4 linked regions of the Homo sapiens genome follow. The protein of the gene in region 2 purifies or fractionates together with the protein of the main gene of each other region. This does not show direct contact. Each region holds a gene or a part of one and is shown on either strand. Other genes may lie near its edges. The genes, in order: ZNF280D, AHDC1, CRTAP and ADNP2.

Region 1 (3,834 bases), on a different chromosome or scaffold from region 2:
TGTGTATGTATGTTATATATTTACATATACTTTTTCAGGCATGTGTTTTTTTTTTAAATTGGGCTATTAAAAATTAGAAAAATATGTTTGAATGCTTATCTGATTTTATGTATGGAAAGACATTCTAAACATAAGAAGCTATTTAAATCATAAAGGAGACTGGGCATGGTGGCTCATACCTGTAATCCCAGCCCTTTGGGAGCCAAGGCAAGAGGATTGCTTGAGCCCAGGAGACCAGCCTGGGCAACATGGCAAAACCTTGTCTCTATGAAATATAAAAAAAATAGCTGGGCTTGGTGGTGTGCACCTATATTCCTAGCTACTTGGGAGGCTGAGGTGGGAGGATCACTTGAGCCCAGGAGGTCAAAGCTGCAGTGAGATATTTGCACCACTGTGTTCCTGTCTGGGTGACAGAGCAAGACCCTGTCTCAAAAAAAAAAAAAAAAAAATCATAAAAAAATATAGATTTTTTTCCAAATATATTTTTTTATTTTAGGTACTTTTACAAGTTAATAAAAATACTTAAATTTAAACTAGAAACAGGCAAGAGATATGAACAGATGAAAATAATGACAGCCAGGACTAAAACTAGTTGATAGATATCTTTTAGTATGTGATTCCAGAGTTTCTCAGAATCTTGCCTAAGAAAATGGCCTCCTCCTAAATTTTACTGCCATAGCGAGGATTGGGAACTTGGACTGTTTTCCTTTTTGGTGGGCAAATGTACCTTGACTTTTTATTTTTTAGAACACGTCTTTATTTTGACAGTGTTCAAAAACATTGCTTTATGAAGAAATACATAATAAATGACTTTATTTTTCAGTAAACAAGATAAAGCTGCTTCTTCAAAAGAAAAAAATGGATGTAATGCAAATTCATTTGAAGGCTCATCAACAACAAAAAGTGAAGAAAGCATAACAGTTTCAGATAAGGAAAATGAAACCTGTCTTGCAGACCAGGAAACTGGCTCAAAAAACATCGTCAGTTGTGATTCAAATATTGGTGCAGATAAAGTGGAAAAGAAAAAACAAATACAACACGTTTGTCAGGAAATGGAGTTGAAGATGTGCCAAAGTTCAGAAAACATAATCTTATCTGATCAGATTAAAGATCACAACTCCAGTGAAGCCAGATTTTCTTCAAAGAATATTAAGGATTTGCGATTAGCATCAGATAATGTAAGCATTGATCAGTTTTTGAGAAAAAGACATGAACCTGAATCTGTTAGTTCTGATGTTAGCGAGCAAGGCAGTATTCATTTGGAACCTCTGACTCCATCCGAGGTACTTGAGTATGAAGCCACAGAGATTCTTCAGAAAGGTAGTGGTGATCCTTCAGCCAAGACTGATGAAGTAGTGTCTGATCAAACAGATGACATTCCTGGAGGAAATAACCCTAGCACAACAGAGGCAACAGTAGACCTGGAAGACGAAAAAGAAAGAAGTTGAAATTAGTCATTTTAAGTTTCAGTGTACCAACGATAAGGGCATTTGGAACAGTGCTATCAGGTGAGCTCAGTGGTGCTGTTGTAGGTTCAGAAATGGAAATATGTAAGGGAGGTCACACATACACTTTACCTGTATGTTCAACCTATGTTATCAAACAAATCAATTCACCAATAATAGCATGATTAGTAGGGATTCCCAAAAAGTTTTTAAAAACACGAACAGGATTTTAATGATAATTAAATTTGCAGTGGAAAGGTCTCATTTAATGGTTTTCAAGGAAATGGGATTTGGTTGCTGACATGAATTGATGATATTAGTAATATTTATAAAGCCTTTCAAACTTCCATCAATCCTAAGCTAAAAATCTTTATTACCTGTATATCCTTTTCAGTTAACTGAGAGGAAGGGATTTGGAAACCATGTACTTTTGGGGAGTAATTGATTAAAAACAATGGCTGATTGGCATTGTTAATGAAGGCTTTATTTGTGAGGATGATGCTGGTAAATGGAGCATGCTTAGAGTACTAAATTGATCTAATGAGAATTTGGATGAACATAAACTTAATTTTGGATTTAATATAACATTCCAGTCAGACGCATGTAAACAGAATATTTGAATCTTTGTACCTCCATACAAGTGTTAGCCTGCCAGGCTGTAAGCTTACCTTAATTAAACTTTCAGTGAAAGTGGAATTATTAAGATATAAATTTATATTTGTGCTTTTTGTCAGTGTGTAAGCTGTGTAGAAATTCTTTGATGTATTAGTTGTATTAATGTAAAGTAGAAACCCATTGTTGAAACTCCTGTAGCTATTATGCTTTTAATATTGTTTTAATGATCTTCCTTAGAAATAGGCCCATAAAAATGGTCTGGAAGCCAAACCAAAGTATGGTATAATGTAGATATTGTAAAGCAGTAAACTGAAAACATGTCCTGGCATGTATTCAGCCATGTTTAAGTGACTTTTCTGTAATTGTAAAATAAAAACTTCAAATGGGACCTAAAACAGTGATGTAAAAGAACTGGTTTTGGAAATTTAGCCTAATTTATCTATAAGATGGCTGCTAAATTGATTTTTCAGTTCTTTTTATCATCTAGAATATAATAGATATAGAAATGAATAATATGAAGAACAGTAGTTTGCTTTGAAATACTAATAAACTTTTATTTAAAATGCTTCATTTTTACTTCTTAAAATGTGCTTTGGATTCTTAAATTTTGTTTCACTGAATGTTCAATGTTTTAAATGGCGATTAAAATACTCTGCTGTATATAGTAGTTTTTGAGTAAATATTTGCAATAAAAATCTGCCCCCGAATAATTCTATTTTTCCAATCACTGCTTGATTCAGATTACCTTTGGTGCCTTTAGAAATTATATACTTGTTCAAGAAATTTAATATCAGTGTTAGTGGTGAGGATTCCATTCTACATTCTTTAACTGCTGATACATTATTTTAAATTAGGACTTAAAGTACAGGGGACAATATTGCTAATATTTATGAGAATAGATTTGCTTTATAAATTCTTTTACTTCAAGAGAAATAGAATTTAATATTATACTTTTCTATCTGCCCAACAATTTAAAGAGGCTAAATAGGCAAAATATATTATGAATTATTTGGAGTATTTTGGGGAGGAGAGCTAATATTTTTATCTTTCCTGCTCCCAAGAAAAGATAGGGAGAGAGGGAGCCATTAGCTCTCATCCTTCACCTTGTTAAAATGTAATTCTGTATCATGGAAGATTTTTGGAATAATATAAACCTTAGAAGAGCAGGGTTAGGAAAAACGCCTGTCTCTATAAGGACCACTTGTGAGTCTCATTCAGTCTGTTGCCACATTATCACATTATGACACCATAATCCCTTTGGAGCTTTGCTACATCAGCCCCCATATACCTTTTGAGTAGTGGTATTCAAAGTAGCAGGTCAATGAACTGTTTGTACCTATATACTATGAGAAAAGGAACCTATACTGGACTGTAAGTGCTTCATTGAGAAAGTCTGGCAATGAAAAAAAAAATAGCTGAATTAAGAATTGTATTTGGTACCATAGCTGGTTTACATTCTCTTTCAATCTCCTTATCTCCAATCAGGAACAACCAATCCAGGTATGCAAACCAAACCTTTGGTAGCAGTGCTTTAGAGCAGCGGTTAGGAAACCTTCTCTACAGGGCCAGACAGTAAATAATTGTGGGCCATGTGCTACAATTACCCAACTCTGCCTTGTATCATGAAAGCCACTGTAGATGATATGTAAATTATGAACCTATTTGTGTTCCAGTAAAACTTTATTTACAAAAATAGGATGTTGGCTGGATTTGGCCCATGGACTATAGTTTGCCTACTCCTGCTTTGTAGTGCTTAAACTCCTTTGATAAGAAT
Region 2 (5,124 bases):
AAGCCCATGCAGTGGGGGTAACAAAGTCCCCCAGCTCCCAAACCCCTTCCCCAAAGGCCCCATCAAGGGCTGGGGAGCAATGCAAAATAACCCCAGAACCCTCACGCATTGAAACTGAGAAGCTATGCTGTCCCACAGCGCCTGAGGGTGGTAGGGGCTCCCTGCCCCCACGACCCTGTTCCAGACCCCCCAGCCCAGCAACAATAATAAACAGCAAGCTCTTTTTCTTTATGACACCAAATTTCTCCAAGCCCAACAGCTCCTTCCATCACTACCTCAGCCATAGATCACATTAAAAACTCACAGAGGGCAACTTAAACACATCACATTTGTTTCTCTCTATATTATTTCAAAAGTAACGGCATTAAAAATGGATTTTACTACAGAAAATAAATATCGGCACGTGGGCTGGGAGCCCAGGCGGAGGAGAGCGCCCACCAGGGGAACGTTCCTGAGGGCTTGGGCACAGTTAGGCACTGACCAGACTAGAAAGGCCAGACTACACCTTGGGCTTGTGGGTGATTCCTGGGGAGGGGGCAATGCCTGCCCACCTGGGCATCTGCCCCAAAGCCAGATGAAGAAGGACAACTCACTGGTTTGGGCTGGTAGCCACTGGTCCCCCAAAGCTTATGCCCTTACTGGTCTTTGCAACCCCTGAAGAGTGGGAGCTCTGGGGCCAGAAGTTCACCAGTCTCTGGGGATTACTCCAACTATTGACACAGCAGGAGAAAAAAATGAATTCAACTTACTATCCAGTTTGATTTTCCATTACTATAAAAATAAATATACATCTGCTCAAAGGAGGGAGATGGCAAGCAGCATGCACATGCCACCTGGGGGGTCCCCCCACAACCCAGCCTTCCTACCCCCCCACCCCAGGTTGGGGGACAGACTGGTAATCTTTCACTTACAGCCCCAGCTCACACAGCCACACAGAACAGGAACAAGCCAACAATAGAAACACCCCAAATGCCCCTGGCAGGACTCTGCCCAGGCCCGGGCACATGCCCCCGCCCAGCCGGCGGCGACAGCAGCAGCGGACAAAATGTGGCCACCCTGACCCGGAGGCAAAGCTTGTCCTCACACCCTGAGCTCTGCCCAGGGAGCTGGGGCCAAGTCCCGCCTGACACCAACTGGTCCGGCGGGAAACGCCTGCCCAGCCAGACAGGCACAGGCCCCCCAAGGGTCCCTCCTTGTGCTCAGGGACCAGGCTGGTACAGTCCGGCCCTGCCTCCCAGGGTGACGCCTGGGCCCAAATTCAGCTGGCCCTGCCAGTCAGGCACTGGTGCAGAACCGAGGGCACCAGGCTCAGCCCCTCCCAGCCCAGCCCCAGGGCCCCCAAGCTGGGAGGGAGGGGAGACTCCCCACCCCTCCACATCTGGCCCTGGCCCCCAGGGTCTGCGGTAGAGAATTCCCGCCCCCGCTTCTCTCCCTCCTCCCGCTCTGTGCCCGCTGCCCGCCTCAGGGACAGCCCCAGCTCCCGCCTCCGGCCAGCAAGGCCCACATCCTTCCTCCCTCAGCTGGCCCCTTCGCCTGGCAGGAGGCTGGGGGGTCAGGCTGCTGGGGAACCCCCCCAAGCTCCCATCAGTCCTCATCCCCAGCCCCCAAACTCTGGGTTGCTGTCCCTTTTCCTGTAGAACAGGAAACAAGGTTATTTCCTAGACTCAGAGCCAGCCCCCTGCCCCTCTGGCTCTGCCCGGGGACCCAGACCCAGCAGGGGAAGGCGCCCTCAAGCAGCGAGCAGAGATTCAGCAATTCACCCCAGCTCCCTGCCTAGGGGGCTGACAGCTGTCACTCAGCACCCCACCCCCTGGGGAAGAGGGGGCCGATTCAATCAGAGCCCCAGAGGAAACGCATTGATAGGCGATTATTTATTTATTTATGCAAAAGTGAGCCGACTTTGTTCGCCAGGTAACCGGGCACGCGGCCCAACCCCTCCAGCCCTAGCCGCCCCCAAATCCCTCCTCCGCCCCACACCCCCTCCGGGTCATTAGGTCCCCGCCCCTCAACTCCCCGAGAGCCAGTGGATCCTAGGGATTTGGGGGTTGGAGGGGAGGGGCTCCTCCCTCCGCAGTCTCCCCTTTTCCCAGCGCCGATCCTAAAATCCAGCCTTGTTCTCCGCTCCCACGGTCCCCCCTTCATTCCCCCCCCCCCCACATTCTCAGCAAGCTGGAGAGCAAATTGCAGTTTTAAATCCAAAGGCGGAGGGAGGGGGAAGGAGGAGGGGGCGCGCGGCAGCGCTGGGCGCGCACCTCGCCCCCGAGCCGGGGGAGCCGCGGGGCGGCCAGGAAACCCGAGAACCCCCCCTCCCCGCCCCCCCTCCCCGTCCACCTCCCCCTCCCCCTTCCCGGCGCTGCCTGCCAGGCTTCGAGCCGAGCCCAGCCGAGCCGCGGGCCCCGGTGGAAACAAAGACCGATCGCACCGCGGGCACCGCAGCCACCGGGTCCAGCGGACCGGACCGGGGGACGCAGGCCCCCCCCGTGCGCTGCACAAAAGAGCCTGGCCGGCCGGTCCCCAGCGGGGGTCTGGGGCTGGGGAGGAGGCGCCACTCACCGGAGTGCTGGGCTGCCGGCTCCGTGGGTCCGAGCCAGGCGAGGGGTTTTGGGGGACGTCTGTCTTCCGGCGGTGGCAGCGACGCGGGCGCCCGGCTGCTGAGGAGAGGAGTCGTGGAGGAGCCCTGAGCCGCCCGCCGTCGCTGACAGCATGGCTCGCGCCTCGGCTCACATTCTCCGCCGCTAACTCCGCTGGACACGGCCCCCCGCTCCCGCGGCGCCCCCCCACCTCGATCACTCCTTCGCTCTCTCTGCGCCCCCCTCGCCCTCCCGCCGCGCACACACTCTCCCAGCCCTGGACACCCCCGCCCCCACCCCCCCCAATAGCAAACCTGGGAGGGAACGCGCCCCGCGTAGTCCTCCTGCTCCTCCTCCTCCGCCCTCCTCCCTCCCGCTCTCTCTGGCTGTCTGTCTGTCTCTCAGACTGTCTCTATTTCTCGCTCTCTCTGCCTTTCTCTGCTCTCCAAGCTGGGTGGGAAAAGGAAATGAGGACAGAAAGCAGACGCTGGCTTTGGGTGGTGGTAGCTGGATTCCCTCTCTCCCTCCCTCCCCCTCCTCCCCTCCCTCCTCCTGCCTTCTGCTCTCTCCGCTGCGAGCGGGGCTGAGCGCAGCCTGGCGGGTGGCTCGCTCTGCCCGCCCGCCCGCCTGTCTGTCTGTCTGGTCCGCCTCGCTCGCTCCCTCCCTCCGTCTCTCGCCCTCGCCCTGCCTGCCTGCCTCTCTCCGTCTCCGCCGCCGCCGCCGCTGCCTCTGCGAGCTCGCCTTACCTTCGCCGCTCACCATCCGGAACCCCAGGGGGGAGCGCGCGCGCGGCACGCCGGGACTTGTAGTCCCCGCCCCGGCCGCTCCGCGCGCGGGGAGGGCGGGGCCGCGCCGGCTGCTCCGACGGCGCGGCCAGGAGCCCCGGGGACCCCGCGCCTGGGGCTCGTCTGGCTGGAGCGCGTCCTCGTTTACCAACGGGCGAAGATCCTCCCCAAGGGTTAAGAATGGTCCCTGTGTTCCTTGTCTCCACCGGGGGGCTCTGGATCGAGCGGAGGTTGCGGGTGGGAGTGAAGGGGCGGGGTCTGAGAGTGGAATGGGAGTGGAATAGGGAACCAGGGGATTAGCCAAAGGGGCTGCGACTTTCTGGGGCGTCCCAATTAAATGGGAGGGGGAGAGGGCAGAGGAGAGGACCGGCTCTCTCAATCTGGGGACGTTATCCTTTTCTGAAAAGGTTTCTTATTGAGTAAAGCTCAAGTATATATGGCGGGAGGGCTGCTGGGGCGGGGGAGCGGGGGAGACCCAGCCAGCGCTGCTTCCTCACTCAGTGACCCCTCCTCTCAAACTCCGACCTCGGTTTCGCCCTTGCAACTCCCAGCTTTCCTATATGTCCAAGGGCGGCGAGGGCTCAAAAGTCCTGGATAATCCGCAGATAGAACACACACACCCTTTTCCGAATTCTGCTGAGCATTTGCGTTGTGTCAGGAAGCAGGATTCAGATTGAACGGTGCTGACCTCCTGCCGCGGCCGGGGGCTGGGCTCAGCACTTTCACCTACCTCCTCTTCAGGTCACATGTGTTCTCCAGCCCCTGCCTAGCCTATCCCACAGATGGGAATGTGCGCTGCTTGGGGGCCTTGTTACCGCCCCCGGAGATGGCTGAACTGCTGCGGTAAAATAGTGCTGTTATTTCCATTTTAGAGATGGGGGCACTGAGGTCCAGGTTCTCCAGTTAGCAAGTGGCTGAACCCAGCTGGATTTGAACCAGGGTCTGACTAACTCCAAACCCCACAAGCTTAACCCCTGGGCTATGACAAGGAGTTGTGACTCCCTCCATTTCTGTAACTGACCTTCTCTCCCTGTGTCTGTGTGTCCTTTCTTGGCACTTCAACAAATGTTAACTGAGGTATGCAGGGCTTGCAAGGGACACGGAGATGAATAATGCATAGTGGCTGTCGTGTCCTGTGTCCTAGGTGTCTACCAACGCCGGCCCTGACTGGCCCTGCGGCGGTCCCACCTCACTGGACCACCTCATCTGTGTGTCTGATGTTCCACACCCTGTGTCTGCTGGCCTTGTCTATCTTGCTCCAGGTCTGAAGTTCCTAGAGCAGTGCCTTTGTCTCTGGCCTACCTGTTTCTGACTCTTCCTTTGGCCTTGCAGGGTGTTGGCCAGTGTGTGACAAAGGCAGCTGGTGACATTTTGCCAACCGCAACTCCCTGGTCACTATCTTCCCCACACCTTCACTCCTTCCAAGCTCCTTCTCTATGGCAGTCCAGTACCCCCAGAGGACAAGAGAGGGGATCTGGGGAACACTCTCTATTGGCCCTTGGCAGAGGGTGTGTGCAGCAGTAATAGGAGAGGTCTAGGGCTCTAAACGGGACACTATTGATTTGGCATCATGGGGCTGCCATGACCGACTGGAGAGGCCCTCATCTTGGAGCAGCTTCTCCTTGCAGACAAGTTAGGACTTGGGTTCAAAGATTTATTCATTGAATGGGAAATATAAGGTCAGATGCTCATAAAAGTAGTGGCTAAAGTCATTAGAGATTCTGCAGCTCCAAAGCCTGGGCCTGAAGTGATCCCAAATAGATGAGGCT
Region 3 (4,500 bases), on a different chromosome or scaffold from region 2:
CTCTCTGTGCCATTCTCATGATAGTGAGTGAGTTATCATGAGACCTAGTTGTTTAAAAGTGTGTAACACCTCCCCGCTCTCTTCCTTCTTCTCTGGCCATGTGAAGTGCCGGCTCCCTGTTTGCCTTCTGCCGTGATTGTAAGTTTCCTGAGGCCTCCCCAGAAGCAGAAGCTGCTATGCTTCCTGTATAGCCTGCAGAACCATGAACCAATTAAACCTCTTTTATTTATAAATTACCCAGTCTCGGTTTTTTTTTTTTTTTTTTTTTTTTGACAGAGTCTCGCTCTGTCACCCAGGCTGGAGTACAGTGGCACAATCTCAGCTTACTGCCACCTCCGCCTCCTAGGTTCAAGTGATTCTTGTGCCTCAGCCTCGTGAGTAGCTGGGACTACAAGCATGTGACTACACCTGGTAATTTCTATATTTTTAGTACAGATGGGGTTTCCCTATATTGGCCATGCTAGAGGTATTTCTTTATAGCAATGTGAGAACAGACTAATATACCTGCTCTCAAACTTACATTTTTCTTTTCGTTCCATTTTAAAAACCAGTTTTATTGAGGTACTATTTATATACAATATATTTATCAATTTTAAGTGTATAATGCAGTAAGTTTTGACAAATACATCCAGTCCTGTAACTGCCATCATAGTTACGACATAGAATATTTTCATCACCCCTGAACAATTTCCTCTTGTCCTTTTGTAGTCAAGTTTTTGCTGTAACCCCTGACTTCTGGCAGCCACTGATCTGATCTCTGTCATAGTTTTCCCATTTTCCTTAATTCAGATTATTATCAAGGGCCTGCTACTTTTTGAATTGAACTAAATAAGAAATGTACCCATCATAAGCAAAGTAGAAAAATCTAGATATAAAGTAACTCACTGATTGACTTCTTCAAGGGCCAGTGTGGCTTCTTCAGAGCTAATGAGAGCTAGCTTGGTGGTGGTCTTGGTTCCCTTTGAGATTTCATGACTGTCTCCCTTCACGCCCAAGAGCGAGCTTCACTGGCTTCTCCATGCCTTTCAGAGCCTGTTCATCCGAGCAGTGCGGGCATACAACGGTGAGAACTGGAGAACATCCATCACAGACATGGAGCTGGCCCTTCCCGACTTCTTCAAAGCCTTTTACGAGTGTCTCGCAGCCTGCGAGGGTTCCAGGGAGATCAAGGACTTCAAGGATTTCTACCTTTCCATAGCAGGTTGGTGGTAGGTCAATAGGCTCACTACTCCCATGGAATAGTCTTCCTTAGATGTCTGGTTTCTGCCTGCATGCCTGCTAGATGCCTGGAGCAGCCTCTGAGGAATTTTTGAGCATACTTATTAACGGGTAACTGAGGGTAGTCACCACCTGCATAGATAAACCTTTGACTTGGCAGGGGCTTCTAGTGAAATCACTGAGAGAAGGTTCAAGCACAGGCCTGCCAAGGTAGAATTCTGTGTCTGCCCTACTTGCTTACAGATTTCCTACAGTCATTTTGAAAAATAAAAATGGGCCCAGGAGCACCTCAGTGACTCACATTACTGAGATAACTTTGATGATGGCAATTTTCCAACACATATAAAGGTAGAATGAACCTTTAAGTGGCCATCACTAAGGTAGCTTTTTGAAATTTTCTTTTCTGATTATAAAACAATGTGTGCTCATTATAGGAAGTTTGGAAAACACAGAAAGGAAAAATGAAGAAAGGAAGAAAATGTAAAACTCTACACATAGGTAGCCCAGATTTCTCTATAGTGCCTAGACATTTCCCAAGTGCTTTACTGGGCAGCATCACTCCAGAAACTGGGAAATGGCTAAGGGAAGCTCTTTCCCAAAGTGGTTTGAGAACACTGATCCTAGAACTGTGCCTTCCTGAAAGCACTAGATAAGTAAAATCTGGACTGTACCTTGGATAAAGGTATCATGTCTATGTACTTGTAAATAAGTCTGGGAATGGGCTGAGCACTGACTGCATCTCCCACTTGAAGAATCATTGTGCACTTTAATGGTTAAAGGCCCTTAGAAATCCTGCAGTAGAGAAGCTCTTTTAAAGTTATTGAATCCAGCGTTTTCGGTTTTGTTTTTTTTTTTCAGTCACTTTTTATTCATTAATCTCTTTCTACAAAGTAGGTTTTTTTTTTTTTTTTTTTTTTTTGCCTTAAGAAAACTTCTTGTTATGGAAAATTTCAAACATACACAAAAAACAGAGAGAAGAGTAGATAAACCACCATGTACCCATGACCCAACTTCACAATTGTCAACTCATGGCTACTTGAGCTTCCTCTAATTCCCACCTACTTTTCCTCTCATGTTATTTTGAAGCGGATTCCAAATGCCATATTATTTCATTTGTAATATTTCAGTATATACCTTTAGAAGGTAAGGACTCTTTGTTTTTTAAACATAACACCAAACTATTACCCCTGTAAGAATTTTAACAATCATTCTTTGATCTCATCATTAAATACCTAAACAGTGTCCCAATCATTTCAGAAATGTCATAAATACATGTGTGTGCCTTTAATTTACCATTTGTTTGAATCAGGATCCAAATAAGGTCCATCCATTGCAATGGGTTATCTCTTGAAAATTTTTATTGTGGTAAAATATACGTTAATATGAACTTTATTATTTTAGCCATTGTTCAATGTACACTCCAGTGGCATTGACTACATTCACATGATTGTGCAACCATCAGCACCATCCATCTCTAGAACTTTTTATGTTTCCCCAAATTGAAACTCTGTATGCGATAACTCCCCATATCCCCTTCCCCCCAGCCACTGGCAACAACCTTTCTACTTTCTGTCTTTGTGAATTTGACTACTCTAGATACATCACGTAAGTGGAGTCATACAGTATTTGCCTTTTTGTGACTGACTCATTTCACTTGGCATAATGTCCTCGTTTCATCCATATTGTGGCAAGTTGGTTATCTTTTATGGCTCGTTTAATCCATAGGTTCTTCCGCCATATCTTTTCCCCTTTGCTATTGAAGAATCTGCATTTTTTGTCCCGTAGAGATTCCCATGGTCTGGGTTTTGCTGACTGTATCCCCATGTTCCTCTGTCTTCTGTATTTCTTGTAAATCGGTAATTGGATGTAGAGGCTTGAACAGGCTCGGTTTGATTTTGTTTTAGGGTTTTAAATTTTGGTGGGAGTCAACTGCTTCATAGTTGATGCTGAGTTCTTTCATCAGGAGGCACATAATGTCTGTGGTTTCTCTCCATCTATCTTTGATACAGCTAAGATATATATGTATTGTAAATCAAAGAGTATCTGAGACAAGTCTCAATCAATTTAGACAGTTTATTTTGCCAAGTTAAGGATGTACTTGTGACACAGACTCAGGAGGTCCTAACAACATATGCCCAAGGTACTCAGGGCACAGTTTGGTTTTATACATTTTAGGGAGACATGAGACATCAATCAATATATGTAAGATGTACATTGCTTCAGTCCAGAAAGGCAGGACAACCCAAAGTGGGAGGGGGTTTCCAGGTCATAGGTAGGTGAGAGACAAATGGTTGCATTCTTTTGAGTTTCTGATTAGCCTTTCACTGAATATGCAATTTGCAGGAATAGTCACTTATGCTTTAGTCTGGCTTAGTGAAACAACAGAGCAAAGGAAACAACCATATATACATTTGTTCCATGTGAGCAGAGGGATGACTGAGTTCTGCCTGTCCTTTGTCCACAAAAACTTCCTTGTGGGCAAATTATGAGAGAGATTTGTGGCTTTTTTTTTTTTTTTTTAAATTTTTGTAGCTATCTTATTTAGGAATAGGATGGGAAACACATTTGTCCTACATGGTTCCCAGCTTGACTTTTCCCTTTGGCTTAGTGATTTTGAGGTCCTGAGATTTATTTTCCTCTCACAGTATAGATATATAGATATTTAGAGTTTCTTTAGTTTTTATTTTTAAATAATTTCAAACTTGTAGAGAAGTCGGAAGAATCATACAAAGAACTCTCATGTACACCTTACCTAGATTCACCAATTTGTAACATTGATTGTGCCACATTTACTTTATTGCTCTCTCCATATGTGCTGTGGGTATAATTATTATTGTTATTATTTTATTTATTTATTTATTTATTTTTGACATGGAGTTTCCCTCTTGTTGCCCAGGCTGGAGTGCAACGGCGCGATCTCGGCTCACTGCAACCTCTGCCCCTTAGGTTCAGGCAATCCTCCTGCCTCAGCCTCCCGAGTAGCTGGGATTACAGGCATGCACCAACACGTCTGGCTAATTTTTATATTTTTAGTAGAGACGGGGTTTCACCACGTTGGCCAGGCTGGTCTCGAACTCCTGACCTCAGGTGATCCACCCACCTCGGCCTCCCAAAGTGCTAGGAGTACAGGCGTGAGCCACCGCACCCGGCCTATTATATTTTATTTTTGAGACTGAGTCTCACTCTGTCGCCCAGGCTGGAGTGCAGTGGTGCGATCTTGGCTCACTGCAACCTCTGTCTGCCGGGTTGAAGCAATTCTCCTGCCTCAGCCTCCTGAGTAGC
Region 4 (4,500 bases), on a different chromosome or scaffold from region 2:
CAGCGCAGCCTCCTTGCTTCCATCTTGCTTTGCCACAGAACAGTCCAAGCCCAGCCGCAGGACAGCCAGTGACTGTGGCCCAGGGTGCCCCTGGAAGCCTCACTCATTCCCCCCCTGCTGCTGGCCAATCCCACATGACTCTGGTCTCCAGCCCTCTGCCTGTGGGCCAGAACAGCCTCACCCTGCAGCCCCCAGCACCTCAGCCCGTCTTTCTTTCTCACGGGGTTCCACTTCATCAGTCTGTGAATCCTCCTGTGTTGCCCTTGAGTCAGCCAGTCGGACCTGTCAATAAGTCTGTTGGAACTAGTGTCCTCCCCATAAATCAGACTGTTCGCCCTGGGGTTTTACCCCTCACCCAGCCTGTGGGACCCATAAACAGACCTGTTGGGCCTGGTGTTCTTCCTGTGAGCCCCTCTGTCACCCCTGGGGTCCTGCAGGCTGTCTCGCCAGGGGTGCTTTCTGTGAGTCGGGCGGTCCCGTCTGGAGTCCTTCCTGCAGGCCAGATGACTCCTGCAGGCCAGATGACTCCTGCAGGGGTTATCCCTGGGCAAACAGCAACTTCTGGGGTTCTTCCTACTGGCCAGATGGTCCAGTCAGGAGTTCTCCCTGTGGGCCAGACAGCTCCGTCACGGGTTCTTCCCCCAGGCCAGACAGCCCCATTGAGGGTTATCTCTGCAGGCCAGGTGGTCCCGTCTGGGCTTCTTTCTCCCAACCAGACAGTCTCCTCCTCAGCTGTTGTGCCTGTAAACCAGGGTGTGAATTCTGGTGTTCTGCAGCTTAGTCAGCCTGTTGTGTCGGGAGTTCTTCCTGTGGGCCAGCCAGTGAGGCCTGGGGTCTTGCAACTCAACCAGACTGTGGGCACCAACATTCTGCCTGTGAATCAGCCAGTGAGACCTGGTGCTTCGCAGAACACCACCTTCCTGACATCAGGCTCTATTCTCAGACAGCTCATCCCTACAGGGAAACAAGTGAATGGGATTCCAACCTACACGCTGGCCCCCGTGTCTGTCACTCTGCCGGTTCCCCCTGGAGGCCTTGCGACTGTCGCTCCGCCCCAGATGCCCATCCAGCTCCTGCCGTCAGGTGCAGCTGCACCAATGGCCGGTTCCATGCCCGGCATGCCCTCTCCTCCAGTGCTGGTGAATGCTGCTCAGAGCGTGTTTGTTCAGGCCTCCTCCTCTGCAGCAGACACAAACCAGGTGCTCAAACAGGCCAAGCAGTGGAAGACCTGCCCTGTCTGCAACGAGCTCTTTCCGTCCAACGTCTACCAGGTCCACATGGAGGTAGCGCATAAGCACAGCGAGTCCAAGTCTGGTGAGAAACTTGAGCCTGAAAAACTGGCAGCGTGTGCACCATTTCTAAAGTGGATGAGAGAGAAAACGGTGCGATGTCTGTCTTGTAAGTGCTTGGTCTCTGAGGAAGAGCTTATACACCACTTGCTGATGCATGGCTTGGGGTGCTTGTTCTGTCCATGCACCTTCCATGATATCAAAGGTCTTTCAGAGCACAGCAGGAATAGGCACCTGGGGAAGAAGAAGTTGCCTATGGATTATAGCAACAGAGGTTTTCAATTAGATGTCGATGCCAATGGCAACCTGCTCTTTCCCCACCTTGATTTCATCACCATATTGCCAAAGGAGAAGCTTGGGGAGCGGGAAGTCTACTTGGCAATCCTGGCTGGGATACACTCCAAGTCACTGGTGCCTGTGTATGTGAAGGTGAGGCCTCAGGCTGAGGGCACCCCCGGGAGCACCGGCAAGCGAGTGTCCACCTGCCCCTTTTGCTTTGGCCCCTTTGTGACAACTGAGGCCTATGAGCTGCATTTGAAGGAGAGGCACCACATCATGCCCACAGTCCACACGGTCCTGAAGTCTCCCGCCTTCAAGTGCATCCACTGCTGTGGGGTCTACACGGGAAATATGACCCTGGCTGCCATCGCCGTCCATTTGGTGCGCTGCAGAAGTGCTCCCAAGGACAGCAGCTCAGACCTGCAGGCCCAGCCGGGTTTTATTCACAACAGTGAACTGCTTTTAGTCAGTGGTGAAGTGATGCATGATTCCAGTTTTTCTGTTAAGAGAAAGCTGCCTGACGGCCACTTAGGGGCCGAAGACCAGCGGCATGGGGAGGAGCAGCCTCCCATCCTAAATGCCGATGCAGCCCCGGGTCCAGAAAAGGTGACGAGTGTTGTGCCTTTTAAAAGACAAAGGAATGAAAGCAGAACAGAGGGACCTATTGTCAAGGACGAGGCTCTTCAGATTTTAGCATTAGATCCTAAAAAATATGAAGGCCGTTCTTATGAAGAAAAGAAGCAATTTCTTAAAGATTATTTCCATAAGAAACCATATCCTAGTAAAAAGGAAATAGAACTGTTGTCCTCACTCTTTTGGGTGTGGAAAATTGATGTGGCTTCATTTTTTGGAAAAAGAAGGTATATTTGCATGAAAGCAATAAAAAATCACAAGCCTTCTGTACTTTTAGGCTTTGATATGTCTGAACTTAAAAATGTGAAACATAGATTGAACTTTGAATATGAACCATAAAACTTGCAAAAAAAAAAAAAAGTAACTCTAAAGTAGTAGGTAGATTTTTTTCAGTTGAAATTTCACAGTGTTGTCCTCACTGTGTTGGTGAATCAACCTCAGTGGTCACTGTGCTGCTCTGCAGAGTTACTTCAGGTGCTGGAGAGACCCCTGTTACCAGGAAGCCAGTAGTTATTTCACATCTATTGTTTCCTGCAGTTTGATTTGTAACAGAACAGTTGTTTTCAGGTTTTTTTCTCTGTCATGTAAATGAAATCTTTTGATATTTCATGCACGCCTTGTTTTCCCACTAGTGTCAGTATCGTATGATAAGAAACTGAAATCTATAAATAATTTGCTTTTTCATTAAGGACATTTCAGCCTTTTTCAGAATACTTGATTTAACTGCGAGTGGAAGCATCGATCTCCTTCAGCTTTCCCTGTAGCAGCAGATGGTACAGTGAGTGTTCAGAGACGTGGGTACAAACCCTGTGATGTATGTATAAGGCTCCCTGAGGATGCACTGCATTAACTTACGCTGACTTCTTTGTAAGATCTTTGCTTATAGATTATAATTTAGATCTGTATTTTTTTAGGTTTATCCTAATAGCTGTTTTTTTTTTTAACCATAACTCATAGAAAATCAAATGTTTTTATTTGTTAAAAGTAGACTGAATTTGACATCTGGTATGCTGGTATGTAGCTCATACATCAAGAGTTATTTTACAAATAAATTTATTCTGTAGATGCAGAAATATTTTTCAGTGTAGATTTTCCCTTTTGATATGCTAAGTCATTTCTCCGTTCAGAGGTAAAACAATAAATTTTTAGTGCCTTTAGAATAAACATTGAAAGAATACACCCCAAAACTCTTCTCCTAACTTAACTACTCATAAACTAGTGAAAGGGAAGGTCTATGATACTCAGGAATAAGATTATTGCCCCTGAGTGTGAAAACTAACTTAAATTTCAGCATAGGGTTTCAGGGGACATGGCGAAGTTTACAGACTGAGATCTCAGTCTCCATGGTTGGTACAGTAAGTCTTTGACCACATTTTCTGAAGGTCATGTTTAGTGGAGAAACGGGCTTTTCTCTAGCTGGTTTAGGCTGGAAGCTGTGTCCGGGTCGATGGGATGGCATATTGTTAAAGAATCTCCATTGTCGTCACTGTCCTGTGGATGTTAAACCTCGTTTTTTTCCCCACACGATATTAAAACTTAAAGCACCAGAACCAGTCATGGAGACCAGCCAGTTTAGATGGTAAGTCATATTTCTGGTGGTACACAGCAGAGGAACCCCTTCACTCTATCTTTAGGTAGAAATATTTGGAGGATGTGACAGCCTCTGAGAAACATAATGTTACTATGTGGATTTTAAAAAATATAATACTTGCATGTAATTGCTATAATGTTCATATTTGAGGCAGTTGTGAAACTGGTTTATGATTGTTGGTGTACTCTGTTGTAAATTCAAAGAGAGCTTGTTGAACATTTTTTTTTTTTACCTATTGTTTTCAGAGTGTCTATTTTGAATTAAAATTTGTTACACCGCTGCAAATAGAACTGTTTAATTCTTTTAAAAGTTAAAACATTATTGTGAATCATAGGGATAACCTCTATATGGGAATAGATACCACATTTATTTTCTAAAAAAACCTTACCTGTCATTTGTGTGAAAATAAGAACATAACCCAAAAGGTCTAATTACTGGGGTCACAAAATAGGTGTAACTACAGATTCCTGATGATTCTATACTGGTAGCCCCCAAAGTGCCAAAGAAGGTATGTAACTGGGGTGTCAGTGCTGTGAAGTTTCCTTCACTGTGGCTGTGTTCAGGGTGAGTGTGGAGGAGGTGCTGATGAGGAGGCAGCTGCCGTCTGGCGTGGTTGAATCCTCACCTTCCTTTTGTTGTGTACGTTAGGGTTTCCCAGCCTCAGCACTGCTGACATTTTGGGTCAGGTAATTCTCTGTGGTGGGTGGC

What was found.
Region 1: the proteins of AHDC1 (region 2) and ZNF280D purify together in Homo sapiens (affinity purification with mass spectrometry, with the first as the bait; one large-scale study listed by BioGRID). This does not show direct contact.
Region 3: the proteins of AHDC1 (region 2) and CRTAP purify together in Homo sapiens (affinity purification with mass spectrometry; one large-scale study listed by BioGRID and IntAct). This does not show direct contact.
Region 4: the proteins of AHDC1 (region 2) and ADNP2 purify together in Homo sapiens (affinity purification with mass spectrometry, with the first as the bait; one large-scale study listed by BioGRID). This does not show direct contact.

Annotation. Positions count from the first base shown.
Region 1 is NC_000015.10:56,629,112-56,632,945, reverse strand, and holds the end of ZNF280D (zinc finger protein 280D), read left to right. Parts: intron 1-823; coding exon 824-1,448; 3' UTR 1,449-2,770; downstream 2,771-3,834. UniProt on the Homo sapiens protein: May function as a transcription factor.
Region 2 is NC_000001.11:27,600,844-27,605,967, forward strand, and holds the start of AHDC1 (transcription factor Gibbin), read right to left. Parts: upstream 3,302-5,124; 5' UTR 3,263-3,301; intron 3,021-3,262; 5' UTR 2,885-3,020; intron 2,652-2,884; 5' UTR 2,554-2,651; intron 1-2,553. UniProt on the Homo sapiens protein: Transcription factor required for the proper patterning of the epidermis, which plays a key role in early epithelial morphogenesis. Directly binds promoter and enhancer regions and acts by maintaining local enhancer-promoter chromatin architecture.
Region 3 is NC_000003.12:33,123,379-33,127,878, forward strand, and holds part of CRTAP (cartilage-associated protein isoform 1 precursor), read left to right. Parts: intron 1-1,029; coding exon 1,030-1,201; intron 1,202-4,500. UniProt on the Homo sapiens protein: Necessary for efficient 3-hydroxylation of fibrillar collagen prolyl residues.
Region 4 is NC_000018.10:80,136,270-80,140,769, forward strand, and holds the end of ADNP2 (activity-dependent neuroprotector homeobox protein 2), read left to right. Parts: coding exon 1-2,540; 3' UTR 2,541-4,077; downstream 4,078-4,500. UniProt on the Homo sapiens protein: May be involved in transcriptional regulation. May play a role in neuronal function; perhaps involved in protection of brain tissues from oxidative stress. May be involved in erythroid differentiation.